Homo sapiens: one gene and its partners. The protein of the gene in region 1 interacts with the protein of each later gene in a biochemical or structural test. Each region holds a gene or a part of one and is shown in the gene's direction. Other genes may lie near its edges. The genes, in order: MAP2K2, LIMK2, INTU, FRMPD2, SHANK1, DLG5 and PTPN4.

Evidence for each region.
Region 2: the proteins of MAP2K2 (region 1) and LIMK2 interact in a test that uses a peptide from one of them, tested with the Homo sapiens proteins (one large-scale study listed by IntAct).
Region 3: the proteins of MAP2K2 (region 1) and INTU interact in a test that uses a peptide from one of them, tested with the Homo sapiens proteins (one large-scale study listed by IntAct).
Region 4: the proteins of MAP2K2 (region 1) and FRMPD2 interact in a test that uses a peptide from one of them, tested with the Homo sapiens proteins (one large-scale study listed by IntAct).
Region 5: the proteins of MAP2K2 (region 1) and SHANK1 interact in a test that uses a peptide from one of them, tested with the Homo sapiens proteins (one large-scale study listed by IntAct).
Region 6: the proteins of MAP2K2 (region 1) and DLG5 interact in a test that uses a peptide from one of them, tested with the Homo sapiens proteins (one large-scale study listed by IntAct).
Region 7: the proteins of MAP2K2 (region 1) and PTPN4 interact in a test that uses a peptide from one of them, tested with the Homo sapiens proteins (one large-scale study listed by IntAct).

Annotation. Positions count from the first base shown.
Region 1 is NC_000019.10:4,096,242-4,100,600, reverse strand, and holds part of MAP2K2 (dual specificity mitogen-activated protein kinase kinase 2), read left to right. Parts: intron 1-1,186; coding exon 1,187-1,400; intron 1,401-3,257; coding exon 3,258-3,322; intron 3,323-4,359. UniProt on the Homo sapiens protein: Catalyzes the concomitant phosphorylation of a threonine and a tyrosine residue in a Thr-Glu-Tyr sequence located in MAP kinases. Activates the ERK1 and ERK2 MAP kinases.
Region 2 is NC_000022.11:31,264,117-31,268,475, forward strand, and holds part of LIMK2 (LIM domain kinase 2), read left to right. Parts: intron 1-1,829; coding exon 1,830-2,016; intron 2,017-2,867; coding exon 2,868-2,954; intron 2,955-3,659; coding exon 3,660-3,791; intron 3,792-4,027; coding exon 4,028-4,084; intron 4,085-4,359. UniProt on the Homo sapiens protein: Serine/threonine-protein kinase that plays an essential role in the regulation of actin filament dynamics. Acts downstream of several Rho family GTPase signal transduction pathways.
Region 3 is NC_000004.12:127,723,143-127,727,501, forward strand, and holds the end of INTU (protein inturned), read left to right. Parts: 3' UTR 1-3,595; downstream 3,596-4,359. UniProt on the Homo sapiens protein: Plays a key role in ciliogenesis and embryonic development.
Region 4 is NC_000010.11:48,180,130-48,184,488, reverse strand, and holds part of FRMPD2 (FERM and PDZ domain-containing protein 2), read left to right. Parts: intron 1-3,480; coding exon 3,481-3,686; intron 3,687-4,359.
Region 5 is NC_000019.10:50,667,310-50,671,668, reverse strand, and holds part of SHANK1 (SH3 and multiple ankyrin repeat domains protein 1), read left to right. Parts: intron 1-2,383; coding exon 2,384-4,359. UniProt on the Homo sapiens protein: Seems to be an adapter protein in the postsynaptic density (PSD) of excitatory synapses that interconnects receptors of the postsynaptic membrane including NMDA-type and metabotropic glutamate receptors via complexes with GKAP/PSD-95 and Homer, respectively, and the actin-based cytoskeleton.
Region 6 is NC_000010.11:77,919,720-77,924,078, reverse strand, and holds part of DLG5 (disks large homolog 5), read left to right. Parts: intron 1-4,359. UniProt on the Homo sapiens protein: Acts as a regulator of the Hippo signaling pathway.
Region 7 is NC_000002.12:119,766,225-119,770,583, forward strand, and holds part of PTPN4 (tyrosine-protein phosphatase non-receptor type 4), read left to right. Parts: intron 1-4,359. UniProt on the Homo sapiens protein: Phosphatase that plays a role in immunity, learning, synaptic plasticity or cell homeostasis. Regulates neuronal cell homeostasis by protecting neurons against apoptosis.

The DNA of each region.
Region 1 (4,359 bases):
CAAGTGACCTTCTTTCCTCAGCCTCCCAAAGTGCTGGGATTCCACTAGCAGTGAGCCTGAGCCACCACGCCCGGCCAGATCTCCCCTTCCTGTTGGAATTCTCTCTTAGGTTTTTGTCTCTAGCAGTGCCTACCAGGTTTCTTTCTTTTTTTTTTTTTTTTTTTTTTTTTTGAGACAGAGTCTTGCTCTGTCACCCAGGCTGGAGTGCAATGGCACAATCTTGGCTCATTGCAACCTCCGCCTCCCACCCGGGAGCAATTCTCCTGCCTCAGCCTTCCAAGCAGCTGGGGCTACAGGCATGTGCCACCACAGCTGGGTAATTTGGTTTTTGTTTTTGTTGTTGTTGTTGTTTTTTGAGACACAGTCTCACACTCTCACCCAGGCTGGAGTGCAGTGGCGCCATCTCCGCTCACTGCAAGCTCCGCCTCCCGGATTCACACCATTCTCCTGCCTCAGCCTCCCGAGTAGCTGGGACTACAGGCGCTCGCCACCACGCCCGGCTAATTTTTTGTGTTTTTAGTAGAGACAGGGTTTCACCATGTCAGCCAGGATGGTCTCAATCTGACCTTGTGATCCGCCCGCCTCGGCCTCCCAAAGTGCTGGGATTACAGGCGTGAGCCACCGTGCCCGGCAGCCTTGGCTAACTTTTAAAAAAATGTTTTTAGTAGAGATGGGGTCTCGCCATATTGGCTAGCCTAGTCTTAACTCCTGGGCTTCCACCTCAACCTCCCAAAGTGCTGGGATTACAGGCATGGGCCACTGCACCCGGCCCTTAGTTAATTTCTGGACCAAGGAATTGGAATCTGGGGTCTTTCAGGAAACGACTGGGGATTCAGCAACCTGCCAAATTGAGCCTTGGAGCAGCCTCTGAGATGTTAGCTGTGGAGGAGGAGGCCCCTGCTTCCTGGGGCCCATCATCCATTCCCAAAAGTGCTGAGCATTGCAGGCTCTTCAAGAGCTGCGGTCAACACCAGCTCCAGGCCTCGGGCTGGAAGCCTCTTCAGCAAGTGCCGCAGGGAGGCCCTGGGTGGGTGAGCCGGGAGGTAGAATTGCGTAACAGCTCTCTATCCATTGCTGCGGTCATTAGCCATGGAGAGGGTGACGGGGGCTGTAACGGGGCAAGCCTCCCGGGTTCCAGCTGCCATCCTCGCCCCTCTGGGCTCTTTCCTCCCTGGCTCTGCTGCAGCCGGAGCGGTTGCAGGGCACACATTACTCGGTGCAGTCGGACATCTGGAGCATGGGCCTGTCCCTGGTGGAGCTGGCCGTCGGAAGGTACCCCATCCCCCCGCCCGACGCCAAAGAGCTGGAGGCCATCTTTGGCCGGCCCGTGGTCGACGGGGAAGAAGGAGAGCCTCACAGCATCTCGCCTCGGCCGAGGCCCCCCGGGCGCCCCGTCAGCGGTACGGCCTGAATCTGCAACTTCCGGTCTGGACGCGCAGTGCCCTGCGCGGGGCCTGCTGTGCCAGGGTCAGCAGCTGCCTCCCCTCTGCCCCTGGCGCACCACCTGTCCCCCTGGATGGTGCCGACTGTGGTCAGCAGTCCTCCCATGGTCCTGGGGTTTCCGGGGACAGAGCTGGAAGCAGTGAGCACCCCAAACCTGTTCTGTCCGGGGCAGCTGCACCTGTTGTTGCCAGCTGGAGGGATCTGGGAGCGCAGCTTTGCCACCAAGCCCCTGGGCAGTTGGATTTTCCAACATTTTATCCCGAAAGCATTCAAACGCACAGAAAAGTGGAAGGAATTGGCCGCCACAGAGCCTGCATTCTGCAGGTGACACGCTCCTGTGCTGCGGGCCAAGCCTTCCAGGGAGTCCTGAAGTGGAGATTGGACTTGGCATGGCCCTCAGTGGCCTGTTGGCTCCGGCCCCAACACACACAGGAGGGGACACAGCCCGGGAGGGGGCGGGAGGGCTCAGGCCCCAGGGACAGCTGGGCTCGCAGAGGACAATCCGGCACTTAGGGCGGGCACCTCGGGAGCGGGAGCTCCCTGACGCCAGTCAGAGAGGGCCGAGCGGACACTTCCACCGCCTGAGGGAAGAGCCGGGGGCGGACCCTGCTTGGTGCAGAATCACAGGAGGGTCCTGTGATTTTTTTTAAAGTCAGACATCAGGGAGAGTTGGTGGCGTCAGACCCCAAAGGACCCTGTAGCGGACTGTGGTTGGTTTTAAAACCATGTTTCCGAACTACAAAGCACACACCCCACAACTCATTTCAGGTGAGCAGTTCAGTGGTTTTCAGTCACAGTGCTGCGCCCCATCACCTCTAATTCCAGAACCTTCTCAGCTCCCCAAGAGGAAACCCTGTCCCCATCAGCTGTCACTCTCCATCCCCTTCCTGCCTCTGGACTGGCCTGTCCTGGGCATTTCACAGAAATGGGGTCACACACTTGTGTGGCCTTCTGTGTTTTGTGTGTGGCTTCTCTCCTGGAGCGCAGTGTCCTCAAGGGTCATCCACGCCATGGTGCGTGTCAGAGCCTGGGTCCTTTTGAAAGGCTGAGTAGTATTTTATGACACGAACAGGCCACGTTTTGTGGTCCTACCCGGATGGATTGGGGCTGTGAGAAGGAGATTTTCATAGCACTGGCAAGCCCACCTCCTCCTCTCCAGCCAGACTGCTGGGATGTCTTGATCTCATCCCAGGGAGAGGCCCCCAAGTCCTTATCCTCAGGCCTAGCCTCAGCCTCTCCCAGTCCCAACTCTCAGGTGGTATACCATCCCCAGCCCAGGGCCCCAGCCCACCTGCCCATTTCAGGACGGGCAGAAGGCGAAAGTCCAGCTGCCAAGCCCAGGCCTGGCCAGCTGGTTCTCAGACAGGGGTCAGCCACCCCTAGCCAGTCTCCCGTCCTGAGTGGCACTTGGGGCCTGCCCCCATCACCGCCAGCAGCTCCATGCAAGGTCACGCGGCTGTCCTTGCCTGCGGTCAGCACCGTCCCTCCCCCTGCCCTCCAGAGAGGAGGGGTGATGACTTTGGCACGTCCGGCAAGCCTCACCGAGCCAAATGTGTGACTTCTCAAAAAATGTTCTTGTTCCTTTTGCCTTTTTTTTAATTCACTAGAGGCTCAGGCAAGGAGTAGCTGTCCCAGGGAATGGAACCCAGAGTCAGGCAGGGGAGCTTTGTCCAGTGCCTCTGCACACCCGCCTCCAATTTAGGCTGGCATGTGGAGGAGGGCGCCTGGTGGTGATCAGCCCCCTGGGAGCCCAACCCCCAGCAGAAGTGAGGTGGCCATCGGCCCATCTCACCTCCATCTCTCTCCCTGTGCAGGTCACGGGATGGATAGCCGGCCTGCCATGGCCATCTTTGAACTCCTGGACTATATTGTGAACGAGGTTTGTGCTTGATGCCTTTTGGCTTTTCTTTTCCTTTTCTTTCTTCTTTCTTTTTTTTTTTTTTTTTTTTTTTAGGCAGAGTCTCTCTCTGACCAGAGCAAGAGTCACCAAGGCTGGAGTACAGTGGTGCCTTCTCGGCTCACTGAAACCTCCACTTTCCAAGCTCATGTGATTCTCGTGCCTCAGCCTCCCGAGTAGCTGGGATTACAGGTGCGCACCACCACACCCAGCTAATTTTTTTTTTTTTTTTTGAGACATTGTCTAGCTTTGTAGTGCAGTGGCTTGATCTCAGCTCACTGCAACCTCCGCCTCCCAGGTTCAAGCAATTCTTGAACCAATTCCACGTGTGTCGCGTCTCCCATCTTCTACTGTGCTGCACAAGCCCAGCTCCTTCCCAAGGGCATTGTTTTTTTATGAAGACGAACCCAGAATTCCCACCGCAGCCTCTCACCCTGAGTCCAGAGGGAGGTGTGTGCCAGCAGCCCTGGGCTCAGGCCGAGGAGCCAGCCTGCCCCTTGAGCAGTGGCCCAGTGTCTCTGCATCAGAGCGTCCTGGCGCCCGTGGGCGTGGACTCATAAATCACCCCGCTTCCACGGAGAAAGGTACAGGAATGGCCCTTGCCTCTTGGAAGGAGGCCCAGAGAGCCTAGAAGGACCTGTAGGTCCCGGGGTGGCTCCTGCTCCGTCAGTCCCCATAACAACCCAGTGAGCCACAGTATGAGGGTTTCCACCGCCCAGATGAGTAAAACAAGGCACAAGGAGGGACGCGGCCTCCTTCCAGGCCTGCAGCTGTCAGGGAGGCACAGGACTGCACCCCAAGGTCCTGTTGGCCACGTGACCAGGCCGGGCCACCTCCCTGGGCCTTCTGTGGGTTTCTGTGTCTTTGGTGGCCCTTTGGAGCTGGGGCAGAGAAACGGGCATTTGAGCTGCCTGCAGACTGGGCTAGGCCTGGGGTTGGGTGGCGAGATGATGACGGAGCCAGGTGGGGTGGCCCTGGTGACCCAGCTCTCCCTGCACCTAGCAGCCACACCCATGCCC
Region 2 (4,359 bases), on another chromosome or scaffold:
GCCTCTTGGCCTTGGTCAGTATGATGAAATTAGTGGGAGGCAGGGCAACAGAGGGCAGGGAAGAGCTAGAAATCCATGGCCTGGAAAAGGGAAGATTTGGGAGTGGCCAGGTATCTGTAGAGCCACCATGCAGAGGAGGGGGGCAGCTAGCCTTGTGTGCTCTGGTGGGCATGGTCAGCAGGAGGCAGAGCAAAAGGACAAGGGTAAGTAAACCTGTAGGTCGGGACAAGCCAAGAGCCATCCAGCGTCAGTCCTCTCTGGGTAGCCCAAGTAAAGCAGGAGCATACCCCAGAGAGAAAGTTCGCAGGGCTGTTCACCTGCAGTGCTGTGGACTTCAACCTTCTTGTTCCTTCTTCAGTAAGTGAAAATAACAGTCATTGACCATGACTATTATCGACCGCTTTTGAAAATGTAAACATAGTGACTTTATTGCTGTAAAAATCATACGTGTTTATCATCTTAAAATTCAGGAAACATGGACAGGTACAAAGATGTGCAAAATATCATCCAAAATCCCATTTGCTGGCCAGGCACGGTGGCTCACGCCTGTAATCCCAGCACATTGGGAGGCCGAGGCGGGCAAATCACTTGAGGTCAGGAGTTTGAGACCAGCCTGGCCAACATGGTGAAACCCTATCTCTACTAAAAATACAATAATTAGGCTGGGCGCAGTGGCTCACGCCTATAATCCCAGCACTTTGGGAGGCCGAGGTGGGCGAATCACAAGGTCAGGAGTTTGAGACTAGCCTGGCCAATATGGTGAAACCCCATCTCTACTAAAAATACAAAAATTAGGGCCGGGTGTGGTGGCTCACGCCTGTAATCCCAGCACTTAGGGAGGCCGAGACAGATGGATCGCGAGATCAGGAGTTCGAGACCAACCTAGCCAACATGGTGAAACCCCATCTCTACTAAAAAAATACAAAAATTATTCGGTTGTGGTGGCACACGCCTGTAATCCCAGCTACTTGGGAGGCTGAGGCAGGAGAATCTCTTGAACCTGGGAGGCAGAGGTTGCAGTGAGTGGAGATCCCGCCGTTGCACTCCAGCCTGGGCGACAGAGTGAGACTCCATCAAAAAAAAAAAAAAAAAAAAAAAAATTAGCCGGGCGTGGTGGCGTGCACCTATACTCCCAGCTACTTGGGAGGCTGAGGCAGGAGAATCGCTTGAACCTGGAAGGCGGAGGTCGCAGTGAGCCGAGATCGTGCCATTGCACTTCAGCCTGGGCGACAGAGCGAGACTCTGTCTCAAAAATAATAATAATAACAATAACTAGCCGGGCCTGGTGGCACATGCCTGTAGTCCCAGTTACTCAGGAGGCGGAGGCATGAGACTCAGGTGAACTAGGGAGACAGAGGTTGCAGTGAGCCAAGATCACACCACTGCACTCCAGCCTGGTTGACAGAGCGAGACTCTGTCTCAAAAAAAAAAAATCCCATTTGCTCATTTTTTGGATACTAGTATAACTATCACTCTAAACCAGTTAGTACTTAAATCAAGCAGATATGGGAGATGGTGAATTACCATCTACAGTGTTGTCATATATGTCACATACTGAGCATTATCAGCTAGTAGAATCTAGTTAATTGTTCTATGTGTGATGTATGCAGAGTTCCCATTTTGAATGTGTTTTTACTATGCTTAAATAAATGACTGATGTCAGCAACCCCAAAATGATACATCTGATGTAAGAGCCCCTGTTCCCCAATAATAACATCTAAACTATAGACATTGGAATGAACAGGTGCCCCTAAGTTTCCTCCCTCCAGGGTTTCTTGGCCGGTCTCTGAGGACTACACATCCCTACTCCCGTCTTTCCTCATCTTCAGGCGCAGTAACAGTATCTCCAAGTCCCCTGGCCCCAGCTCCCCAAAGGAGCCCCTGCTGTTCAGCCGTGACATCAGCCGCTCAGAATCCCTTCGTTGTTCCAGCAGCTATTCACAGCAGATCTTCCGGCCCTGTGACCTAATCCATGGGGAGGTCCTGGGGAAGGGCTTCTTTGGGCAGGCTATCAAGGTGAGCGCAGGCAACAATTGCTTTGCTCTTCTGCCCCCAGTCCCTCTGTCACTGTCTTTCGGGGATTTCTCATCACTTGGCCCCACCCCACACCATGCAGGATGCCAGGCCTCCTTCCTGGCTTTGGGTGTTGGTGTGAGAGGTATCCTTCACCCCCACCCAGGCCACCTAAGGTCAATGTTGCTGTTACAGTGAGCTTGTGGACCTGGAGATCCAGGTTGGGTTGAGCTGTGCCTGTGGCCCTCCTGCCTCCAGTCAGTGGGTGTTTGTTAGGTGCCTGCAGACCTCAGTACCGGGCATGCTACAAGGAGCACACAGGGGAATGGCTCCTGCCTCCCTGGTGAACAGTCTCAGGGACTAACCTCTCTCTTTCTCTCCTCCTCCTCCTCTTCTGCTGAGAACTGGGAGGGGGGGTCAGGTAAGACGTGTGTCTCAGCTTGGGGGCAGCAGGGCTGGAGAGCTCACCCCCGATCCACCCAGCTCCCTGGTGCATGTCTTTGGCACTGACCTTCCTGCCCCCAGACTTCTGTTCACTCAGGAGACTCACTTCTATGCCAAATGACCAGAGCCCCTGCTTGGCTTGGCAGCATCCCCTCCTGCCTTCTTCCCCACTTCCCTTTTCTGGGTTCTTGCCTGTCCTCTGTGCATGCCCAGCTCTCCAGGAAAGAGGGTTTGCTTCCGTGTGAGTCCCATGTTGCTCCACGCTGCATCTTCCACACATGAACTCTGTCATTCTGACCCGGCTCAGTGTGCCCTCCAAGGGATGGGATGGCCAGCTGCATAGATTTTCTCAAACAGTTCTCCAGAACTTCCTCTGGTCTCAGCACCATTAACAGTCACCCTCCCTGTAGGTGACACACAAAGCCACGGGCAAAGTGATGGTCATGAAAGAGTTAATTCGATGTGATGAGGAGACCCAGAAAACTTTTCTGACTGAGGTAAGAAGATGGAGGGGGCCCGGGAGGTTGGTGTCACCATTGGAAGAGAGAAGACCTTACAAATAATGGCTTCAAGAGAAAATACAGTTTGGAATTACTGTCTTAAAGACTAAGCAGAAAAGAGCCCTAGAGGAATATCCCACTCCCTCTAAATTACAGCGTAATTATTTGTTCAATGAACACTTACTAAAAGCAACACAAACAGGGTACAAGGGATGCAGTAACAAAAGATACAGGGTTCAGAAGAGCTCTCAGGTTATGAGGATGATGGACATGAAAACACTCCAATTTAGTACAACTCAATGTTATAATCCTCACCTGAACGCCCTGCTAAGGGAGCCTGGAGGGGAGCTCCCTGAGCACTCACACTCCTTGGGCATTTACAGTTTTCACTACCCCTCCCAAGTTACTTCATGGAGTAACTTAAGTTGGGGACACCTGTGGTCTGGGTATTGCCCTCCAAGCCACTTGGCCACTCCCACCCCAGTTCTCCCAATGCAGTTCCAAGGGTAAGGCCTATGAAGCCATCTCCATCTATATGGTGGTGGTCTTCCCTCATCCTGATCTTAGTGCCCTGTCATATCACAAGATAGGAGGTAGGAGATACAGGTGGTAACACTTGTCAAGCTGATTCCTTGGAGGGAAGAGGTAAGGAAGACAGTGAGAAGTTAACCACCAGCTTTCCTTGGCTTCCCCCACCCCCAGGTGAAAGTGATGCGCAGCCTGGACCACCCCAATGTGCTCAAGTTCATTGGTGTGCTGTACAAGGATAAGAAGCTGAACCTCCTGACAGAGTACATTGAGGGGGGCACACTGAAGGACTTTCTGCGCAGTATGGTGAGCACACCACCCCATAGTCTCCAGGAGCCTTGGTGGGTTGTCAGACACCTATGCTATCACTACCCTAGGAGCTTAAAGGGCAGAGGGGCCCTGCTTTGCCTCCAAAGGACCATGCTGGGTGGGACTGAGCATACACAGGGAGGCTTCACTGGGAGACCACATTGACCCATGGGGCCTGGACCACGAGTGGGACAGGGCTCAACAGCCTCTGAAAATCATTCCCCATTCTGCAGGATCCGTTCCCCTGGCAGCAGAAGGTCAGGTTTGCCAAAGGAATCGCCTCCGGAATGGTGAGTCCCACCAACAAACCTGCCAGCAGGGCGAGAGTAGGGAGAGGTGTGAGAATTGTGGGCTTCACTGGAAGGTAGAGACCCCTTCCTATGCAACTTGTGTGGGCTGGGTCAGCAGCTATTCATTGAGTTTGTCTGTGTCACTGAAACTGACCCCAGCCAACTGTTCTCAGTTCACAGCCCTGTTTTCAAAGAATTACACATCTCTAAAGGCAAACAGGGCACGGACAAGGCAAACTGGAGAGGCAAACTGTAGCCTGAGATGGCCTGGGCTT
Region 3 (4,359 bases), on another chromosome or scaffold:
TCCTTCACCATCTCCCTTGGCTGGACGAGGGAGTTCACTTTGCTGCGTGCAGTTCCTGGATGGGATCTTGCTCCACCCTGTTTGCTTGCTCTCCGTGGGTCATGCCAGCCACCTAGCAGTCCCAATAAGAGAACTTCAGTATCTCAACTGAAGATGCAGAGTTGACTCACAGTTTTCTTCCTTCTTGGTGGGAGCTGCAGAGCAGAGCTGCCTCTCTTTGACCATCTGGGCTCTCTGTTCTACTTTTTTTTTTTTTTTTTTTGCCTCTTGCATGTTGGTCACCTCCTAAATTAGTAATGTCCAAGTACTTATTCCTTATCAGATACTTTTCGTTAATTTAACTATCCTAGTACATACCTCACTGTGGGGAAAGGGGGAAAGATGAAAATTAAACTTACTTTTTATTTATTTGATTCTCTTTAAGTTTCAGGTAAGCTCAATTTTGACTAGGATATATATATGTGTGTGTGTGTATATATATGTATTTTTTAAACTATTTGTCAACTTTATTTTTTTTTGTTTGTTTTTGTTAAAATACATTCAGCGGCTGGGCTTAGTGGCTCACGCCTGTAATCTCAACACTTTGGGAGGCTGAGGCAGGTGGATCACTTGAGTCCAGGAGTTCAAGACCAGCCTGAGCAACATAGCAAAAACTCCATCTCTACAAAAACACCAAAATTAGCCGGGTGTGGTAGCACTCTCTTTTAACAGTCCCAGATACCTGGGAGGCTGAGGTGGGAAGATCACCTGAGCTCAGTCGGTTGAGGCTGCAGTGAGCTATGATCATGCCACTGCACTCTAGCCTGGGCAACACAGTGAGACCCTGTCTCAAAAAAAAAAATCACATTCAAGTATATTTCACATGCATTTTATATAATTCATGAATTTCAGGAAAGCTGCATGTAAATCTTTTTTTAAAGCTAAATCATGTTAAAGACACTGAAAAAGTTAACTAAAATTCTATGGTGACTTCTTTTATAAAATACTAATTTTTGGCCGGGCACGGTGGTGGCTCACGCCTGTAATCCCAGCACTTTGGGAGGCCGAGGCAGGTGGATCATGAGGTCAGGAATTCGAGACCAGCCTGACCAACATGGTGAAACCCCATCTCTACTAAAAATACAAAAATTAGCTGGGCGTGGTGGTGTGCACCTGTAATCCTAGCTACCTAGGAGGCTGAGGCAGGAGAATCGCTTGAACCCAGGAAGCAGAGGTTGCAGTGAGCCAAGATCACACCACCGCACTTCTGCCTGTGGAACAGAATGAGACTCCGTCTCAAAAAAAAAAAAAAAAATACTAACTTTTATCTTAGAAATATAGATCATTATGCATTGGGTTTTTTCAAAGGGGGAACACTTTAGTGAACAATAGTTTACTTGACCTTTAGTTGGAAAAGAAAACTAATGGTGGAGAATTTTCTTTGGCTGGGAGAATTTGGTAGATTGAGAGAAAGGAAGAACATCAATACTGCATTTTTACTTGACATTTACCCTGTAGATCCTCCTAGAGGTTCGATGCCCCCAAGACATTCCAACACTGAGCTGTTTCTTCTCCAGGTCTTAAGCTTTGAATACAAGCTATACCAGCACATCTAAAATCGGTCTCTACATTTTTCCATCTTAAATATGAGCTGTCCAGCTTAGTCAAAACTAACTGCAAAACACTGGGTGTACCATTTGAGTCATTTGGTCTTAAAAGAAACACTATTATCACTGTGTCACAGTTTGAGAGATTTTCACTTAAGCATTTAAGTTGCAAACCACTACATATTTGTCCCATTAGTGACTAGTGGGCCTTAATTTTGGCATTCAAATTAGGGTAAAAAACCTTGGTTCTTGAAATGCTACAGAAAATAGCTTGAGGCCAGGCACAGTTGCTCACACCTGTAACTCCAGCACTTTGGAAGGCTGAGGCAGGCAGATCACTTGAGGTCAGGCGTTTGAGACCAGGCTGGTCAACATGGTGAAACCCTGTCTCTACTAAAAATACTAAAAAAAAAAAAAAAAAAAAAAAAATTAGCCGGGCATGGTGGCAGGTGCCTGAAGTCCCAGCTACTTGGGAGGCTGAGGCAGGAGAATCACTTGAACCCAGGAAGCAGAGGCTGCAGTGAGCCTAGCTCGTGCCACTGCCACTCCAGCCTGGGCAACAGAACGAGGCTCTGTTTAAAAAACAAAAAAGCTTGAAATACCTTCCCCTTAAGATCACAATATTGTCATATGCTACCATTTGACTCACAACTGCTGTCTTAGGACTGCTTATTTACATATATATGTATTAAGACACTTTGGTTAAAACAATTTATTAAATGTCTTAAATTTCTGGATATGTCCCTGAAAATACCATGAACTACTTCTAATACTGATAATTATGAATAAACGTAGCTGTTGATCACCTCAGGTTTTCATACAAACTGAACTAAGGTAGGGTTTTATCATAGGGGACTTTTTGTTTCATTTAATGAAATTTTGATGTGTTGAACTGCTTTCCTGGTGTCAGAGAAACATGAGACCATCGCTCAATAATGGAAATAAAAAGGCAGAGCAGACTACTGATCTTAATAAAAGGAAAATTATTTGCTGTATCGTAGATGTGCACTGTAATTTCCATGTTAAAGAGGCACTGCATTTTTAAGAAATAAAATCACACATCTTATTTTTTCATTTCTAAATGGATATTGAACTAAGCTCTGAAGGCAAACTTAGCTGCCTATTTTTCCAAATATGTTCAGAATCACATCTGAAACATCAAACTGATTATCAGACAATAAAGTGCCTGTTACTTTATTAAATAAAGGGGGACAGGATGACAGTGCAGATATCCTAGAAATATGCTTTAGAAGACATAGAAACGTTGTTAAATTGGATTTTATTAGTATGCAAATGTTCCCTTCCACCAACAACTATTAATGTGAAAAACTATATATAGCTAGCATTTTTTAAAATATCAAATACTGTCTCATTATCATATGTTTAGCCCCCCCAAAATTACATTTTAGACTCTTACTTTCTCTCCCTCTCCCCTTTCTTTAGCTCTTGTTTGTGTCTTGCCAAAGAAGTGTACCTAGTAAGGGAATGTTTCTTATTTGTGCCAAGGGACTATTGATGATGCTGTATAATGGCAAGATAGCATTTTGTAATACCTGCTTTTTTATATTTCTAATACAAATGGGCAAAGCTGTGAAACCAATTTACTAGGTTTTTCTGCTTTGGACATAATTGTATGTGTTAATTCTCTCTAAACAGTGCCTGGCACATATTACATGCTATAAAAGTGTTAGCTACTACTGCTACCATTTATTATTATCATTATTAAATATCCATTGGTTGAAAAACCAAGTAGTCAGCTAAATCATACCTGCTACTGTACAAAATGTAGGGGAAAAGCTGAGAAAAATCATTTATCAATAAACAGTTTTCAGAACAAGAATTTATACTTTGGATATTTTTAAATTGTTAAATGTTATTGAAACTTTATGCACCAAAACTGTATGAAATAATTTAATTTTGCAGTTGTGTTTCTATATTCTATGTAATTAAAGCTACTTTTATACTATATTGATAGTTTTAAATAAAACTGGTTTGGAGGTTTGTTTGCAGTTGTATTGCCTTTTTCATGCATTCATCCAACATGTATTTATTGCATTTCTACCCTGTGCCAAGCGCTGATGTGGAGGCAGAGGCTATAGCAATGAATAAAACAGCTAAAAATTCCTGCCCTCATGGAGTTTATGTTCCAATGGGAGAGGCATACCACAGACAAGATAAATAAGTAAAATATGTAAATGCTGAGAGAAAAAATCGTAAAGCAAGAGAAGGGGATGTAAGATGTGGCAGACAGGGTGACCAAGGAAAGGGATGCTGAGCTGACTGCAGACCTGAAGTGAGGAAACTAATCATGCTGATTTCTCCGGAGAGCAAAGTGAACAGAACAAAGATCCAGAAACTCTACTTTTAATGTTAACATAAATCACTAGAATTTTTTTCCTTCCCTAATCAGTAAGTAAAATCAATGCAGTAAATTACTCAGTTTCAGCTCCGACCTATTGAAGAGTTGATTTAGTGCTTTTAATAAGGTTAAAAAGCTACTGGGCGCGGTGACTCACTACTGTAATCCCAGCACTTTGAAAGGCTGAGGCGGAAGAACTGCTTGAGTCCATGAGTTCAAGACAAGCTTGGGCTTGTCTTGATATGGAGACCCCATCTCCACAAAAAATTTTTAAAATTAGCTGGATATGGTGGTCTTTGCCTGTAGTCCTAGCTACTTGGGAGGCTGAGGTGGGAGAATTACATGAGCCCAGGAGTTCAAGGCTTCAGTGTGCCATGATCTTGCCACTGCATTCCAGTCTGGGTGCAGAGTGAG
Region 4 (4,359 bases), on another chromosome or scaffold:
CCTTGAAGTCCACGTAGGTCTTCTATATTGCTTTCCTCATGGTGTTGGCTTGCAAAGAAGCAGTGTAGTGGCACAAATTAATAAGCTTTGCAATTTCAGGGGCAGAATGGGCGTTACCATGCTTGTCTTGCTGAAAGGGAGTAACCTACTCTAATTTTGTTAGACACGGCTGGATACAACCAGTCTTTTTTTTTCTGTCAACTCTCCTTGCATGGCAGGGAGGACCTTTTTATTGCCACCCAAAGTCCTTGTTGATAGGGTCGGCTCCAGGATTTCTATATTTTGTATAGAATCCTATACAAAATTTCTATATTTTGTATAGGTATAGCAATCAGCTGGGGAGGAGACAAGCACTGTTCTTTGTTAATCTTTTGTTTTGGGTTTAGGGCTACATGTGTAGGTTTGTTATTACAGGCAAACTCGTGTCACAGGGGTTGCTATACAGACCATTTCATCACCTAGGTGCTCAGCATAGTGCCCAATAGTTATTTTTCCTGATCCTCTCTCTCCTCCCATCCTCCTCCCTCAAGTAGGCTCTGGTGTGTGTTGTTCCCCTCTTTGTGATCATGGGTTCTCATTATTTAGCTCCCACTTGTAAATGAGAACATGCGGTATTTGATTTTCCTTTTTTTTTTTTGAGATGGAGTCTCACTCTTTCACCCAGGATGGAGTGCAATGGCACGATCTTGGCTTTCTGCAGGCTCCACCTCCTGGGTTCAAGCAATTCTCCTGCCTCAGCCTCCTGAGTAGCTGGGATTACAGGCACGCGCTGCCACACCCGGCTAATTTTTGTATTTTTTAGTAGAGACGGGGTTTCAATATGTTGGCCAGGCTGGTCTGGAACTCCTGAACTCAAGTGATCTGCCCGCCTCAGCCTCCCAAAGTGCTGGGATTACAGGCATGAGCCACTGCACCTGGCCTTTTCTTAAAGCTGAATTTTCGTGGCAAGCTCGCTCTTCTTACTTGATGTGCATGTTCCTGATCAACCTAAAGAGTAAAGTACTTTTTGATGATGCTTTTCTTCATCCTTTAGATAAGAATGAGAGAGCAACAACTGCCTATATTAAAGGAAAATACTATTGTTTTTATCGGGACCAAGCTTGAGGAGCCTGGAGGAAGTAATGGGAGTAGGCTAACATCCCTTCTCCCTAGTTTCCTGAGACCAATGCTGCTTTTTGGTTGGGTGATCCTGTAAACTAACAGCAGACCGCCTGCAAATTCAGGCTCATGATTGCTTCTTCACACTTGAGGGGTGTTGTACAGTTTTCCCTTGTATACAGGAGAACTTCCTGTCACACCAGCCAGCATTTTCTAGGTACTAAATGCAGGCACTGCATTTGCCTTGCCTTCTGAACACTTCTGCATGCATGCTCTCTCACTCTTGTACCTGTACACAGTGCCATGCAGCTCCCCTGTCCAGAAGCTATGGGTGGTGGAAGGTGGCCATGCTGGGGTCTCAGCCCCACACCCTTCATCCTGGGGTTGAAGCCTTCTCAGGGACTGGCCTCAGTACATCTCCAATGCCAGTCTCTGGCTTGCTGTCTGTTGGATTTCCCAGCACCACTGCTCTCCTTTCTGCAGTGGTTCAGCAATCCCTGTGTTTTCTTCCACATCCTCCACTGACAGGAGCAGTCAAACCATCCCATGTGTTGTCAGGAAACACAATGCAGGTGACCAAATCACAATTCAGCATAGTCCAAGGATGGCCTGCTGTGATGGAGGTTGTCAAAAAGCAGTACTCGAGGTCTGCTATTCTCAAACCACAACCTCACATTAGAATTCCAGACAATGAGTTTCCCACAATGGCTGGGAATAAAATGTCCTTTCACTGTGGCACCCCAGCCACCTTTTGGCAATGCTGCCTTCATCATGGTGGGGTTTCCTCATAGCTGGGCCACTGCCAGAGGAAGATGTTTCCTTGGTGATGCTGGCTGGGTCTCCGTGGCAGAGACTTGACTACCATGACTTTCTTCTATCTCTTTAGGCTGCTGTTAAGGCAGCTGGGCTAGATTGGAGATCAGGATCAGACAGATAAAATGTCCATCATGAGCATCTGTCATGGTCTACAATAAATTGAGTTTCCTTTACCAAAAAAGGTCTCCCAGCTCATATGTCTACTAGGCAGGACACCAGTTGCAGCATGGTTTGACTTTTCATTTCAATCGTAAGTCCCATCCTCACCTCTCATGGAGGATGTGGAAGAGAATGAGCCGATGCTTATGACACTGCCAGAAGGACAATGATGACAGAATCTGTGAATGAAAGGGCCAGAAATACAGCATTATGAAACAGTGGCCCTGCCACTCCCTGCTGGATACCTTTAGATTTGAATAACTTCAAATCAAATTCATTAAATCAGATTTATTTAAATTGAATTCATTCAGCATGTGAGTTTGGGCACTTCCCTGAGTGTTAATGAGTCTGTATCAAAAGTAGTAAATCTACTTGTATCCAGGTCTAAAGAAAATCTAACTGTTATTCATTCCTCCCACATATATTTGTGGAGCAGCTAATAATAACATGTTAACAGTAGATACATTTATTGAGGCTCTACCATGTACTAAGCTGTGCGTGTCTGTGTGTGTGTGTGTGTGTGTGTGTATGAGAGCCATATATATATATATATATATGAGGGAATATATATTCTTTCATATATACATATATATTTTTATCTTTCTTAACATATGTAAAATCTTTTCTGTACGTATAATCTCTAAGCCTCACCAACTCTACAATATTATTGATATTGATATTATCTCTACTTTAGATACAGGAAAATTTAGGTTCAGTTATGTTAAGCACCTTGCCCAAGGTTTTTCTACTGATTCACAACCTCACGTTCTTTTCTTTGTTCTATGCCAGGTCACGAGTCAGACACAGGGTGAGCAGGAATCAGTGGCCTAGCTTTCACTCACAGGGGCCTGCAGTTTGGTTATTACCAAGCCTCCCAAAAGGACCTGATACGTTGGTTTTTGGATCACATGGTGGCTGCAGATGTGCTCAGTGGGGTGTCCAGGAGAGGCTGGGTTTAAGACAGTTCCCACATGCTGGCTGTAGCATTTGGGGCAGGACACTTAATAGCTTTGACTCTGTTTTCTCATGTTTGAACTGGGATTACACCTTCCTGGTGGGTTTGCTGAGAAGATGGGAAGATGTCCATATCTTCCTATATGTATATCTAAGGTGCCCATCACATGGCTAGAGCTTAATAAGGGATAGCTGGCCTTATGAACTTCTTTTGAGCCTACGCATTCATAGTTGGGTCACGTAAGCTCTATCTAGGTTTCTAAATCCCATGTAGAATCTTCCCTTTCTCTAATCTAAATGTAACATCTTTCAGGAGGAGCTAAATTCATATTGTACCCGAGCAGCTATAAACGATCACTCTGTCACTGGAGGAAAACGCTGTGCCCACATAGAGATGCCACCAAGAAACCGGCCTTTTTAAGCTGTTGACTTTTTCTTGGCTTGTTTTTATAGGTGTTGGTGGAAATAACCCAGATGAAGAAAAGAATAGCACAGCCAATTCTGGGGTCTCCTCTACAGACATCCTGAGCTTCGGGTACCAGGGAAGTTTGTTGTCACACACACAAGACCAGGACAGAAATACTGAAGAACTAGACATGGCTGGGGTGCAGAGCTTAGTGCCCAGGCTGAGACATCAGCTTTCCTTTCTGCCGTTAAAGGTAATCATCCCTTGGTTTACTTTCTAGATCTGGATGAAAGAGAACAGACTGTGAAGCCCAACAGCCTGGCCCCTAGGCCCTTCCTGTTCTCTGTTTTCCATGTCAGGTGGATGGAAGTTACTTAGCCCCTTTGAGCCACAGCTTCCTCATTTGCATACAGAAGCAAATGCCTGCATGGCATGGTTGTTGAGAAAAACGCATAGAAGAAGGCAGAGTTCTAGGACAGTGTCTGGGCACAGGCTCAGTGTGGGTGCCTCTGGAGTCTTTAGTCACTAATTATAATTGTTGTGATAATAGCACCATGAGGAAATTGATTGCTGCCAATGGCAAGGCGTGGGCAACCAGGCACCTCCTATTCTTGTCCTTGAATTGGTCCTCAAGCTGGGAACTCAGTGGCTTTGCTCTTGACCATACCCCATGGAGGAAGAAGATGGGATCTGGAGTAGGTGTATGGAGGGCTGTGTGCTTCAGTCCCAGCTCTGCTGTCCTCTGCCGTCTCTTTGGATTCCCAGTGGTGTTGTCTTCTCAGGCCCCGCCAGACCCATGCCCCAGCCTCTCCATTCTGCTCTGGGCCCTGCACAGCTGGTGCTCATGGACTGAGTCACCTTGCTGTGTTCTGCTTGGTTCTGCCCAGTCGAAGCCTCAGCAGGAGCCCGCAGTTGTGGGATGAGTG
Region 5 (4,359 bases), about 47 Mb from region 1:
CCCCACATGCCAGGAATTGTTCTAGAATGGGGATACGTCAGCGAATAAAACAGACTAAAGGTTCCTGCCCTCATGGGCTTGCCTTATAGCAGGGGAAGACAGATAATGGATTATAAGGAAAATAAGCAAGAAAATTATCTAGTATGTTAGCAGTTGTACGTGCTATGGAAAACAAAAAAAAGAGTGGGCCGGGCGCAGCGGCTCACGCCTGTAATCCCAGCACTTTGGGAGGCCGAGGCAGGCAGATCACAAGGTCAGGAGATCGAGACCATCCTGGTTAACATGGTAAAATCCCATCTCTACTAAAAATACAAAAAATTAGCCGGGTGTGGTGGCGGGCACCTGTAGTCCCAGCTACTCAGGAGGCTGAGGCAGGAGAATGGCGTGAACCCGGAAGGCAGAGCTTGCAGTGAGCCGAGAACGTGCCACTGCACTCCAGCCTGGGCGACAGAGCAACCCTCTGTCTCAAAAAAAAAAAAAAAAAAAAAGAGTGAAAAAAAATAATGGAGTAAGGTAAGAGAGATAGGGAGTGCTGGGTAGGGGGCAGGGTGCAGGTTTGAGCTAAAACCTATAGATGGGCCAGGCACAGTGGCTCACACGTGTAATCCCAGCACTTTGGGAGGCCGAGGCAGGCGGATCACAAGGTCAGGAGTTCAAGACCAGCCTGACCAACATGATGAAACCCCATTTCTACTAAAAATACAAAAATTAGCCAAGCGTGGTGGCATGTGCCTGTAATCCCAGCTACTCAGGAGGCTGAGGCAGGAGAATAGCTTGAACCCGAGAGGCAGAGGTTGCAGTGAGCAAAGATCGCACCATTGCACTCCAGCCTGGGCGACAGAGCGAGACTCTGTCTCAAAAAAAAAGAAAAGAAAAAAAAACACCTAGAGATGAAGTGGGGAATCGTGAGGCTCCCTGGGGTTGAGGCATTCCAGGCAGAGCGAACTACCTCTGCAAAGGTCCTGAGGTCGGGCTGAGTCTGGTGCGTTTACAGAACAGGGAGGAGGCCTGTGTAGCAGGGGCCAAGTGAGCACTGGACATGAGGGCAGTGGGGGGACAGGGTCCCGATCCTGCAGGGTCTGGGGAGTCATGGTGAGGACTTGAACCTTTGCCCTGAGTGAGGTGAGTGAATGGCAGGGCTCTAAGCAGAGGAGGGACATGAGCTGACTTCGGTTTTAACAGAAACCCTCTGGCTGCTGTGAAGGGACTAGATTGAAGGGGATGAGCTGGGAAGCCGGGGGACCAAAGAGGAGGTGACAGCTATTGCTATCCAGATAGGAAATGATAGTGGCTGGCCCAGGGTGTTGACTCTGGAGGGGTGAGAAGGGATTGGATTCCGGATATGTTTTGAAACAACAGGATTTGCTGGTGGATTGGATGTGGGTGACTTGAGGAAGAAAGCTAAGAGTGGCTGCAAGGTTTTCAGTCTTAGCACCTGAAAGGACAGAGCTGCTGTTTGCTGCGGTGGTGGGGAGGGACCGTGGGCTGGGAGGAGTCTGTTGGTGAGGAGATCAGGAGCTTGGGTTGGAGCGTTTGGAGTCTGAGATGCCCGTGAGACAGCCAGCTGGGTGTGGGTATTTGAATATAGGGGCCCAGAGCTCAGGGCGGAGGATGGGGCCCCAGGCATAAACGTGGGCGTCGACAGCAGAAAGGCAGTGAATGAAGCTGGTCACTAGTTGAGAGGGAGTAGTCAGAGGTGAGAAGAGGTTCAAAGACCGAGCCTTGGCAGTGAAGTAAGCAAAGACTTAACTCCTGCACGCCTCCTGGAGTTGTTTTTCCCTGATTGGATTCAGCTTTCCCCAACTCCTGGCGTTCAAAGTCCACCAGTGTGAGTCTTACACTCCCACTGAGTGTGGGGTCCACCTGGCTCGCATCGTTTACCTGATTTTTTTTTTTATAGATCCAATCCCTTTTAAACTTTAGCCTCATCATAAGTGGTTCTCTCTGTAGAATCACAGCTTTGATGTGCTGGTTGCATTTCTTTCCCGCATATACGTGAAAAGAAACACGCATCTATGCATAAACACGAGGGGACTATCCCTTCCCAGCTCCAGCCACTTTTGCTGGCCCCAAACCGTTCACTGAGCCTTTGAACGGAATTAGAAAATGGCGCCCCCTCCTGGCGTGGGGAGGAAGTTCTGCTGAATTTCAGTTTCCTCACCTTCCTTGCGGTTTGCAGTTGTGCAGTGCACAACCTGTACCTCTGTATGAAGCAGATTTGGGTTTACCTCAAATAGGGAAGAGCTGGGCGAGTCCACGTGAAGTTCCTGGCATATACGGGGTGCCATTCTTGTCATTAGTATTGTTGCGGTTCTATGGGATAGTGGAGCAGGGAGACCCTCCCCGCCAGGGTCCCCCTCCTTGAGCCTCTGTATCTCCCCAGGTGCGGCAGAAGATGACAGACCTTACCTAGCACCCCCAGCCATGAAATTCAGCCGCAGCCTGTCTGTGCCTGGTTCGGAGGACATTCCCCCGCCACCCACCACGTCCCCACCGGAGCCTCCCTACAGCACACCTCCAGTCCCCTCCTCCTCAGGGCGCCTCACCCCCTCCCCTCGGGGAGGGCCCTTCAACCCTGGCTCTGGTGGCCCCCTCCCCGCCTCCTCCCCTGCATCCTTTGACGGGCCCTCCCCTCCCGACACTCGCGTGGGGAGCCGCGAGAAGAGCCTGTACCACAGTGGGCCCCTGCCCCCGGCCCACCACCACCCGCCCCACCACCACCACCACCACGCCCCGCCCCCTCAGCCCCACCACCACCACGCCCACCCCCCTCATCCTCCCGAGATGGAGACAGGCGGCTCTCCCGACGACCCTCCACCCCGCCTGGCTCTGGGGCCCCAGCCCAGCCTGCGAGGCTGGAGGGGCGGCGGGCCCAGCCCGACCCCGGGGGCCCCGTCCCCATCGCACCACGGCAGCGCGGGCGGGGGCGGCGGCTCCTCCCAGGGCCCGGCTCTACGCTATTTCCAGCTGCCCCCGCGGGCGGCCAGCGCAGCCATGTACGTGCCCGCCCGCTCGGGCCGCGGCCGCAAGGGCCCGCTGGTCAAGCAGACCAAGGTGGAAGGCGAGCCCCAGAAGGGCGGCGGCCTCCCGCCCGCGCCGTCGCCCACGTCCCCGGCCTCCCCGCAGCCGCCGCCCGCCGTGGCCGCGCCCTCGGAGAAGAACTCCATCCCCATCCCCACCATCATCATCAAGGCCCCGTCCACCAGTAGCAGCGGCCGCAGCAGCCAGGGCAGCAGCACCGAGGCGGAGCCCCCCACCCAGCCGGAGCCCACGGGAGGCGGCGGCGGCGGCGGCTCCTCGCCCAGCCCCGCCCCGGCCATGTCACCCGTGCCCCCGTCCCCCTCGCCCGTGCCCACCCCCGCCTCGCCCAGCGGCCCGGCCACGCTGGACTTCACGAGCCAGTTCGGGGCCGCCCTGGTGGGGGCGGCCCGGAGGGAGGGGGGCTGGCAGAATGAGGCGCGCCGGCGCTCCACGCTGTTCCTGTCCACCGACGCGGGGGACGAGGACGGCGGGGACGGCGGGCTGGGCACAGGGGCGGCCCCGGGCCCGCGGCTGCGCCACTCCAAATCCATCGACGAGGGCATGTTCTCCGCCGAGCCCTACCTCCGACTGGAGTCTGCGGGCAGCGGCGCGGGCTACGGCGGCTACGGGGCCGGTAGCCGAGCCTACGGGGGTGGCGGGGGCAGCAGCGCCTTCACCAGCTTCCTGCCCCCGCGACCCCTGGTGCACCCGCTGACCGGCAAGGCCCTGGATCCCGCCTCCCCGCTGGGGCTGGCCCTGGCCGCCCGCGAGCGAGCGCTGAAGGAGTCCTCGGAGGGCGGCGGGGCCCCCCAGCCGCCTCCCAGGCCCCCATCGCCCCGCTACGAGGCCCCGCCGCCCACCCCGCACCACCACTCGCCCCACGCCCACCACGAGCCAGTGCTGCGTCTCTGGGGGGCCTCCCCGCCGGACCCTGCGCGCCGGGAGCTGGGGTACAGGGCCGGGCTGGGCAGCCAGGAGAAGTCCCTTCCCGCCAGCCCGCCCGCCGCCCGGCGTTCCCTGCTACACCGCCTGCCGCCCACCGCTCCCGGGGTGGGGCCCCTCCTGCTGCAGCTGGGGACGGAGCCCCCGGCCCCGCACCCCGGAGTAAGCAAGCCCTGGAGGTCCGCAGCCCCCGAAGAACCCGAGCGGCTGCCGCTGCACGTGCGGTTCCTTGAAAACTGCCAGCCCCGGGCCCCTGTGACGAGCGGAAGGGGTCCCCCCTCGGAGGACGGGCCGGGGGTCCCGCCGCCCAGCCCACGCCGGTCCGTGCCCCCCTCCCCGACCTCCCCGAGGGCCAGCGAAGAGAACGGGCTGCCCCTGCTGGTCCTGCCGCCTCCC
Region 6 (4,359 bases), on another chromosome or scaffold:
AGCCTGGCCAACATGGTGAAACCCCGTCTCTAATAAAAATACAAAAATTAACTGGGCGTGGTTGTGGGCGCCTGTAGTCCCAGCTACTTGGGAGGCTGAGGCAGGAGAATCACTTGAATCTGGGAAGTGGAGGTTACAGTGAGTTGACATGGTGCCCTTGGATTCCAGCCTAGGTGACAGAGCAAGACTCCTTCTCAAAAAAAAAGAAAGAAAAAAGTTAGGACAGCATTTGGTATGGCAAGATGCCACCTGAAGCCCCTGGGGAAGAGGGTGACATGGTGTGTCAGCAAACAGTGGCGTGTTGGGGGCTTTTGTTTTTTTGAGACAGGGTCTCACTGTGTCACCCAGGCTGGAGTGCAGTGGCACAATCTCGGCTCACTGCAGCCTCCGCCTCCTGGTCTCAAGCCATCCTCCTGCCTCAGCCCCGCAAGTAGCTGGGACCACAGGCACATGCCACCACACCAGCTAATTTTTGTATATTGTGTAGAGATGGCATTTCTCCATGTTGTCTAGGATGGTCTCGAACTCCTGAGCTCAAGCGATCTGCTTGCCTCAGCCTCCCAAAAGTGTTGGGATTACAGGCGTGAGCCACTGCCCCGGCGCAGGGGAGGCTCCTTTGTGAAGGGTAAATTGCTGTGTTGTAGGTCTCCACTTTTTTGCTTTTTTTTCTTTTAGCCAGGAAGTATTCCTTATGGTCAAAGCTCAGTGCATAAGAGAGCGGCTCTGGCTGAAGGAATGGAAGTCTTCTTCCTTGAGGAGCCATAGTCAGGAAAACCCAGCACTTGGTCCTGCCTCCTTCCACTCCTGAGTGATTTCCACTCTGTGCTCTGGGCAGCAGCTCTGGGTTTGAATTGGCCTCAGTTCGAGGCCATTGCGGAGCCTGAGAGAGGAACCAGCTGGCTCCCTGGGATCCTTAGCGTCAAGGGGTGGCTGCTTTGGCACCGATTCTCTGTTGGAGATGATGCCATCACCCACCTAGGAGCTTCCTTGATGGATTCCACACCCTGTGTGGGCTCCTGATCCAGAATGCCCATCCCCCACTGGCACTTGGGTGCTGAGGGAGTCTGCATCGGCAGCAGCCTACCACGTGGGGCCTGGAACTGGAAGGAAACTGGGGAGGACATGTGCCTGGGTGTTGGTGGGCAGGTGAGCAAACCCAACCCATCGGGGCAACTCTTGCTGAGTTAGATCCCCAGACATTTAAACCTACCACGCTCAGGCCTGGGGGTGTGGAGTGACTAGGAGACACACTGTGTTGTGGTTTTTTTGTTGGAGGTGTGGCTCTTATTCCGGTATTGATAGGGCATTGTCATTCAGGATTTTGTGTCCTATCTTCATATCTCATTAACTCTGTGGCAGCCCCAGGGAGATGAGTGGTGTCTTATGATCTTTGGTTCCAGGGCCCTGTCTGTAAGGAAGAAGTCGCAGGGCAGAAAGGTGCCTGAGTCAAGGCCAAGCCCAGTGCCCCTGATTCCTTGTCTGGGGTGGTTTTTCCTGTTCCCTGGTTAGGCCTTCCCACTACAATTTCAGGACATTTCCAGTCACTGTGGGACTCTGAAATTATGTAGCTTTCTTTTGTCCCGGATTTGATACATGGATCTGCGGGGAACAAGCGAACACCTTTGCCCCAGCTGGTGGTAGGGAGAAGACAGAATTGTTTACTTCTGAGTGGCTCAGTTGGGTCTCTTGTTTTTCCCAGTAACCAAGTCTAGCTTGGTCACTTGGAGCCCCATGCAGTCCTTTGTTTTTTCCCTTTGATTTGGGGAAACACCTGAGTTTTTTCCCTTGAGGATTCTCAACTCCCTGCCCCTGGGGTGAGCCTCAGTATCTTCATCTGTAAGATGGGGCTAATGGTGCTGCACTGCCTGCCTCTGTCACCGGGAGCATTGAAGTGCCTGGCCCAGGTGGGGCTGGGGTGTAGACAGGGGCCGGGGTGCACAGGATGTAATTCTAGTCCGTAGCTTGCCGCCTTGTTGGGGGAATGGGACGCTCATGAGAGTGACATTATGAGACAGGTCAACTGATAGAGATGCACAAACAGGCTTTTTCTTTTATAAAAAACTCGGTATGCTACACACTTTCCCCAGATACTCTCATTCACCTTTAGTGGCTCTCATTACCATCTAAATGTGGGACTCCTCAAGTCATTCCCACCAGGCCTCTATTGGGAGGCAGAAATGGCAGAACTTGGCTGGACCTCTCGCGTGCTCATTGCCTGATGTTTCCTTCTCGTTCCCACTCCCCACACCTCCTGTGCCTCCTCTTTACTTTCCTAGTGAACTGGCTGGCTTGCTTCATCAAACTTAAGAGAATGGAGCCAGCAGCGTCCGCTGGAGAAGCCGAGGAGAGCTTCACGAATGTGCTGGGACTTGGTGTTGAAGTGAAGCTCTGAATGCATGGAGCCATGGAGGGAGGACGTGTGGGCTGCGTAGGCTGGACCGCACAGGCTGAGCCATAGAGAGGAGCCATGTGTTTACCCAGCCTGAGCAGAGCAGGGGTTTGGCCTTGGCTCTGGGTGGAAGGGAATTGGGGATGCAGAGGTAATCTGGAGGACCTTAATGGCTAGGCTGAGTGGGAGGTTTGAATTTAGGCATTGTACACTGTCAGAAATTAGAGCTGGAAGTTTGTTTTTTTTCCCCAAGGGAATAACCCTGCCAGGCTTTTCTAGTGGGACTAATGCAGATGGGTGCTGATTGTCAGGTGTGGGTTATTTATTATTCAGCAGAGGTTGCCTGGCCTTTTGTTCTCTCTCCACTTCCTTCGGGTACCAGCCACCTTTTCTTCATCCCCTCTGCCCTGGAGGGTCAGCAGGGCAAGGGACATAAGTAAAAGCTCCAGCTGTTGTGGTTTTTCTTTTGGTTCTTTTGTTTGTTTATTTACTTATTTTTTAGAGACAGTGGAGTGCAGTGGTGCAATCATAGCTCACTGCAGCCTCAAACTCCTGGGCTCAAGCCATCCTCCTGCCTCAGCCTCCTTAGTAGCTAAGATTACAGGCGCATGCCACCCTGCATGGCTAATTTAGGTGGTTTTAATTGTGTTATTTAAGAGGAAGTGGCAGAGTCATTTGAAATTAATGGTTGAGAAGAGGTTTTTAAGTGAAGGGCAGATTTTATCTGTGTATCATTTCAGGGTACCTTTATTGCAAAATGACAGAAACTTAGCTCAGATCATCTTAGGTAGAAAAAGAGAAATGTATTGACTTAGAATATTCCACAACCTTTGGATGGATGGTGGAAACTGGCCTTTGGGACGTTTGACCTCTTGGATCGATGCTGTGGGCTTTTCCCACGGGTCTGAACATGACCTCAGGCCCCTCTGTTCAGGTTCACAGCCCCTGACCAGGGAAGAAAGGGAGCTCTATCCAATCAGCCCAGGCAGACAAACCTCATGGTAGGATTCTGATTGGTCTGGCCAGTGTTATGTGTCCACATGAGGCCCGGTCACTGTGGCCAGGGCTAGAGGACTAAGACTGGCTCAGCTTTGGCACTGTGCCCAGCAGTGGAACCCCAGGGTAAGGTGATGGGCTACTGTGATTGGCAGCCCATTCCAACACTATGTGGGTTTTTAGAGGGAGGCAGAGCAGTTGTCTAAAGGAAGACAAGCAGCAGCGATGTCACGCAGGTAAAAGAGCAGATGAATGTCCACTCCAAGCATTACCACCTTTGTGCGATAATACAGTTAGCACAGGCGGTCATTGCTGGAGTGGGATGGTGGGTCTAGGTAGTAATGATCAGACCTTACAAGGTTTTAGACCTTGAGCAAGGTTTTTAACCCTTCTGAGCTTATCTCCTCTACAAAGTAATTAAAACACTAACTACTTCACTGTGCTATTTGACAATCCATGGTAGGAAAAATGGAAGAGCATTTTGTTACCCTGAGTAATATAGCACAACAGTGGCAGTAGTAGACAGCAACTAGCCTTAGAACCAGAAAACTGGGAATCTCCTGGTGTTTCTGAGGGTTCTGTGGGAGCTCCTTGTATACTATGCCAAGCAGGTGTCAGAGCTGTCCTCCCTGAGCTGAATTTGCTGTTATAGTCCTCATGCCCAGAATAGAGCCTAGTACAAGATAGGTGTTCGATAATTTTTTGTTGAACGAATGAATAGTCAGCTGTGTGTAGAGTGAATGATGTATCCTTGTCCAGATCATCTTCAAATATACATGCAGATTCCTAAGTGGTGACCTCATGGTGGCAGAGGCTGTGGGAGAGGAGGAAGGCTTGAGCAAGCCCCAGATGTACACAGGGATATCACCGCCCACGGTATGTCTGTGATGGAAGCAGGTGGTGTGACATTGATGTCTGAAGTTCCCAAGGTTGCCCATCAGGTACTGGTGGTGTGGAGCTGGCTGCCAGGAGCC
Region 7 (4,359 bases), on another chromosome or scaffold:
GAAAAGGATTGGGAAAACCACTGTTTTAGAGACTGTAAGTATTAGAAAGTTTATGGTTCCTACTCACCCTTGGCATCCACTATGGAATCAGAAATAAATATCAAATCCTAAAGTAAGCTTAAGGTAAACTTAAGAATTCTTAAGTCACCTTCCTCTTTCTCTCTCTTTTTCCCTCCCTTTACCCGCTGCCTCCCCCATTTCACTGGTGTATGCGCATGTGCGCGCGTGTGTGTGTGTGTGTGTGTGTGTGTGTGTGTGTCTGTGTGTGTGTGTGTGTGTGTGTGTGAAATATCTCTTTGGTGCCCTTGCGTTACTGGTGCCCTAAACATGCATTTAGTCTGCCTCTTGGGAAATCAGCATTAACATTCAGGAACAATTTAGAGGTATTTAAATAAGGGATGATAAGATTAGATGCAGGTTTTGAAAGGTAACTCCTGACTTCTAGATAATGATGCAAAGTTACAAGGATAATGCAAGGATGAGGTTAGAAATGGAGCAGAGAGACCAGATGCTGTTGCAGTGGTCCAGGGGAGGGATGATAGGAACCAGAAATAGGGCAATATAGATATGAGATTAGAACTGAAAACTGAGTAGTTTCACTAGACCTGAGAGTCCATTTGGACATGGGGGGAAAGAGTTGAAGATGATGCTAGGATTTCTTCTTTGGCAGCTTCCCTTCTTTAGCAAGGGAAGGCCAGATTATTTTTATTGAGCACTTCCAGTGAGCCAGGTATTTTGCTAGACAGCGAAGTTGTCACGAGTTCTCATTTAACATTTTGAAATAATTTCAAACCTAATGAGAAATCTCAAGAAAAGTACAACAAAGAGCTCCTGAATCGCCTTAAACTAATTTTTAACATTGTACTAGCTATGTACCGTGTGTATACACAGCTCAAGATGAGCCTGGAACACCTCGTGCTTGGCTCAGTAAGGCCTTTTCCAGATGCCCCAAGTGGTCACCTTGGAATTGTGTTTAGCCCTTTCCCTTTTTCTACTGTATCTAATTGGATCCTCAAATTTCAGTGAAACAACCTCATCATCTCTCATTTCTGGTCCTACATTTTAATCCTTATTTCTCCATTTCAGGGGAATGCACCATTTCTAATTTCATTTGGCTTTTTTCCTGAATTATTTGAGAGCAAGTTGCAGACATGATCCCTATCACTACTAAATATTTTAGTGTGTATTTAGCAAAACAGGACAATCTCCTACATAACCGCCAAATCAGGAAATCAACGTTGATATAACACTACCTTCAGGTCGAACCTAGATGCCATTCAAATTTTTCCAACTATCCCAGTAGTATCTCTCTTTTCTTTTTGGTCCAGCATCCAATTCAGGTTCACACATTGCATTTAATTGTCACATCTTTTAGTTTCCATCAGTTTGGAATGATTCCTCAATATTTCCCTGTCCTTTATGACCTTGACAGTTTTAATGAGCAGAGTCCTTTTTTTCTGTTACATGTTTTCCTCAACTTAAGTTCATCCAGTGGTTCCTCATGTGCAGACCGAGTGCATTGTTGGCAGGAATGCCATAGAAATAATGTCGTGATATTCTTAGTACATCACTAAGAGACGTGCTGTATAGTCCTGCTACTAGCGATGTTTAACTTTGAACACCTGTTAAATTCAAGTCTGCTGGGTTTCTCTACTGTGAAGTTATCGTTTTTTTCCTTTTGTAATTGGGAATTCTTATGTGAGAAGATATCTGGGAGTGTGTCAATAGAGCTGAAGGCTGTAACCACGAGCCTTCAGGTCTGATGATTGCTACCTGAATCAGCCACAACTGTGAAAGTTGTCACCTACATTTATTAGTTCATATTCTACTGAAAGAAGATTTTCTCCTTCTTCTCCATACATTTATTTATTCATTCATTTATATCAATATATACTCCTGGATTTGTTTCTGTTTAGTGGTTTATATTAGTTACTGTCATTTTAAAATTTCATTTTGTTGGTCAAATTGTCCCAAATTTGGCCTTTAAGTTGGCTCCTCTATCTCCTTGACCTGTCCCCCTCCTTGGTGTATTTCCTTACTTTCTGGCCTAACAAGATGTTCCAGATGATCTTAATACTCTCCTATCCCAGCTCTGAAATCATTTATTTTTCCAAGGAATCCTGATTTTATTTTACTTTTTTAAGTAGAGATGCTATTTAGGAACTGAGATCCGAGTGTTCAGTGTGTTCATTTCTGCTGGCATGTCATCACTTTTAGGGGGATAGAGCTAGGAAATACATATATGTATACACACATCTGAATCTGTTTCTATGCCTATGTACAGGTATTTTATAAGTTCACACTGATACAACCAATTCCAATCTAACATCTCAGGATTCGTCTAGCCTTTTCCCTTTCTGTATTTGTAAATCTCTTCTCCAGCAGTGATAAATTGGTTCCTATTATCTCCTCAGTGTATTTACTTATTTGCTCAATCCCCTTGTATGTGCCAGTCTTCCGACCCCGCATTAGTTGTCTCCTTTCTCCTTGCTTGCCGCCTCTGAGGCCTGTGGCATGGGGTCCTCAGAGCTTGCTGTCAGGTCCATGTAGGAAAGAGAACTTCTCATTTAATCTTTTTCCCCTCATTTAATCAGGACAGAAATTTGTTAGAAAGGTGCTATTCCCAGTTTTAAAAGGAGAACAGAGCTGAAATTCAAAAAGGTCTGTGTCTTTAGGCATGTTACTGTGTAAATAGCTGAGTAAATATTTTGCATTCAGATTCGTCTGATACTGAAGCATCTTTTCTCTCCTGTACTGCATAGCCTCTGAGTATCTGTGGAATCCAAAGTGGCAGGATTTAAGGTTGTATAGATGGTAGCTGAAGCAATGGGTGGGACTGTCACTGCTTATGAAGTATATATAAAGTTAGGAAGAGGCACACTGACAGAGCTCCTAACTACCATCACTGAAAGATTAAGGGCTCTCCGAAATCAAGAAGCCAGTGAAGAAGACTGAAAGAAAGGTTGTGAGAGAGGAGTGTGGTTGTGTGTTAGATGATGGTGAAGTAAGGAATTTCATGAAGCTGCCATGTTGCTGAGAGAAAAAGAGAAGACCAAGAGGCTTTGAATTTGACTGTTGGAAAGTTATTGATAATCTCAGCTAGTTGGTTTTCCAGTGTGTTCAGGCGAGCTGCCTGTATCAGAATTATGGAGATACTAATGAAAAATATGAACTCCCCAGGTCTCATCTCAGACCTTATAGATTCTTAAAAGGGGGAGTGGGGAGCCAGGAAGTGGTAGCCTGGGAAAATCTGCTGAAATGCTAAGGTTCTTCTGAGGTGTACTAGTTTGAGGTTTGTTGCTTTAGCAGAAGAGTTATAGTGGAAGAGTGTAATAAACTAAATTGAGGAAACCAAGTGTACAATGAATATAGATGAGACAGCTCTTCGAGAAGTTTGCCATAGAGGTAAAAGATCTCAGGTCATGGAAGAATAGGGGACAGCATCAAGAAAAATACCTTTGCGTTTCAAGGGTTACATACACCTTAACATTTGTTGGGATTAAGAGAAGGAAACTGTAATGGTTATTTTAAAGTTGGGTAAGCAAAACTAATTAGCAACACCTACTATCAAAAAAATGCCCTGAGTGAACTTTGATATGTATCTGGGATAGCTGCCTGCTCCCATTTTAAATGCCATCTTTTGGTAGGTCTTTGGAGTAATCCAAGGGTCATTGTTTATTTTGTTTTTAGTTAAATTTGTATCTTGTGTTTTTGTTATACAGTTGTGTAAAGAGCTTCTCTTTGCTCATTTTTATACAAACACGAATTCTAAGTATATTCTTGTATATAGACGAGTCACTAGCAATACAATTAAAAATTACGTCCAAAATTGGAGGTGACTTTAGAGGGAAATCCAATCCAGGGCTAATTTAATGTATTCTTTGAGCACCAGCTAGGTACTAGGCACTGTGCTTGGCTGTGGGGATACAGAATTGAATAAGACATGCTCTTTATCATCAAGATTATTGTTCTTTCTTCAGAGGAACTTGAAATCTAGTGTATAGCTAGAAATGGTACAGATAAGTCATAGATAACTATGTTAGTCTACAGTAAAATAAGTACAGATAAGTCAATGTTTAATTAATACAGCAGTGTATATTACCATAATTCTCAGACTTGTCATTTTAAAATTGTATTTAAATTGTATTTTCGTATTTGAATTGGCAATATGGCTACATGGTTCAAGTTTCAAAATAATATAAAAAGGCATATAATGAGAAGTCTTGATACCACTCCTTCTCTTTCCTGTTCTGTATAGGTAACTACTTTTATTTTTTGTATATTCTATGGTATTTATGCAAATAGAAACACATATAAAGATTACTGTTTTCCCCCTACCTTTTTTATGTAGAAGGTATT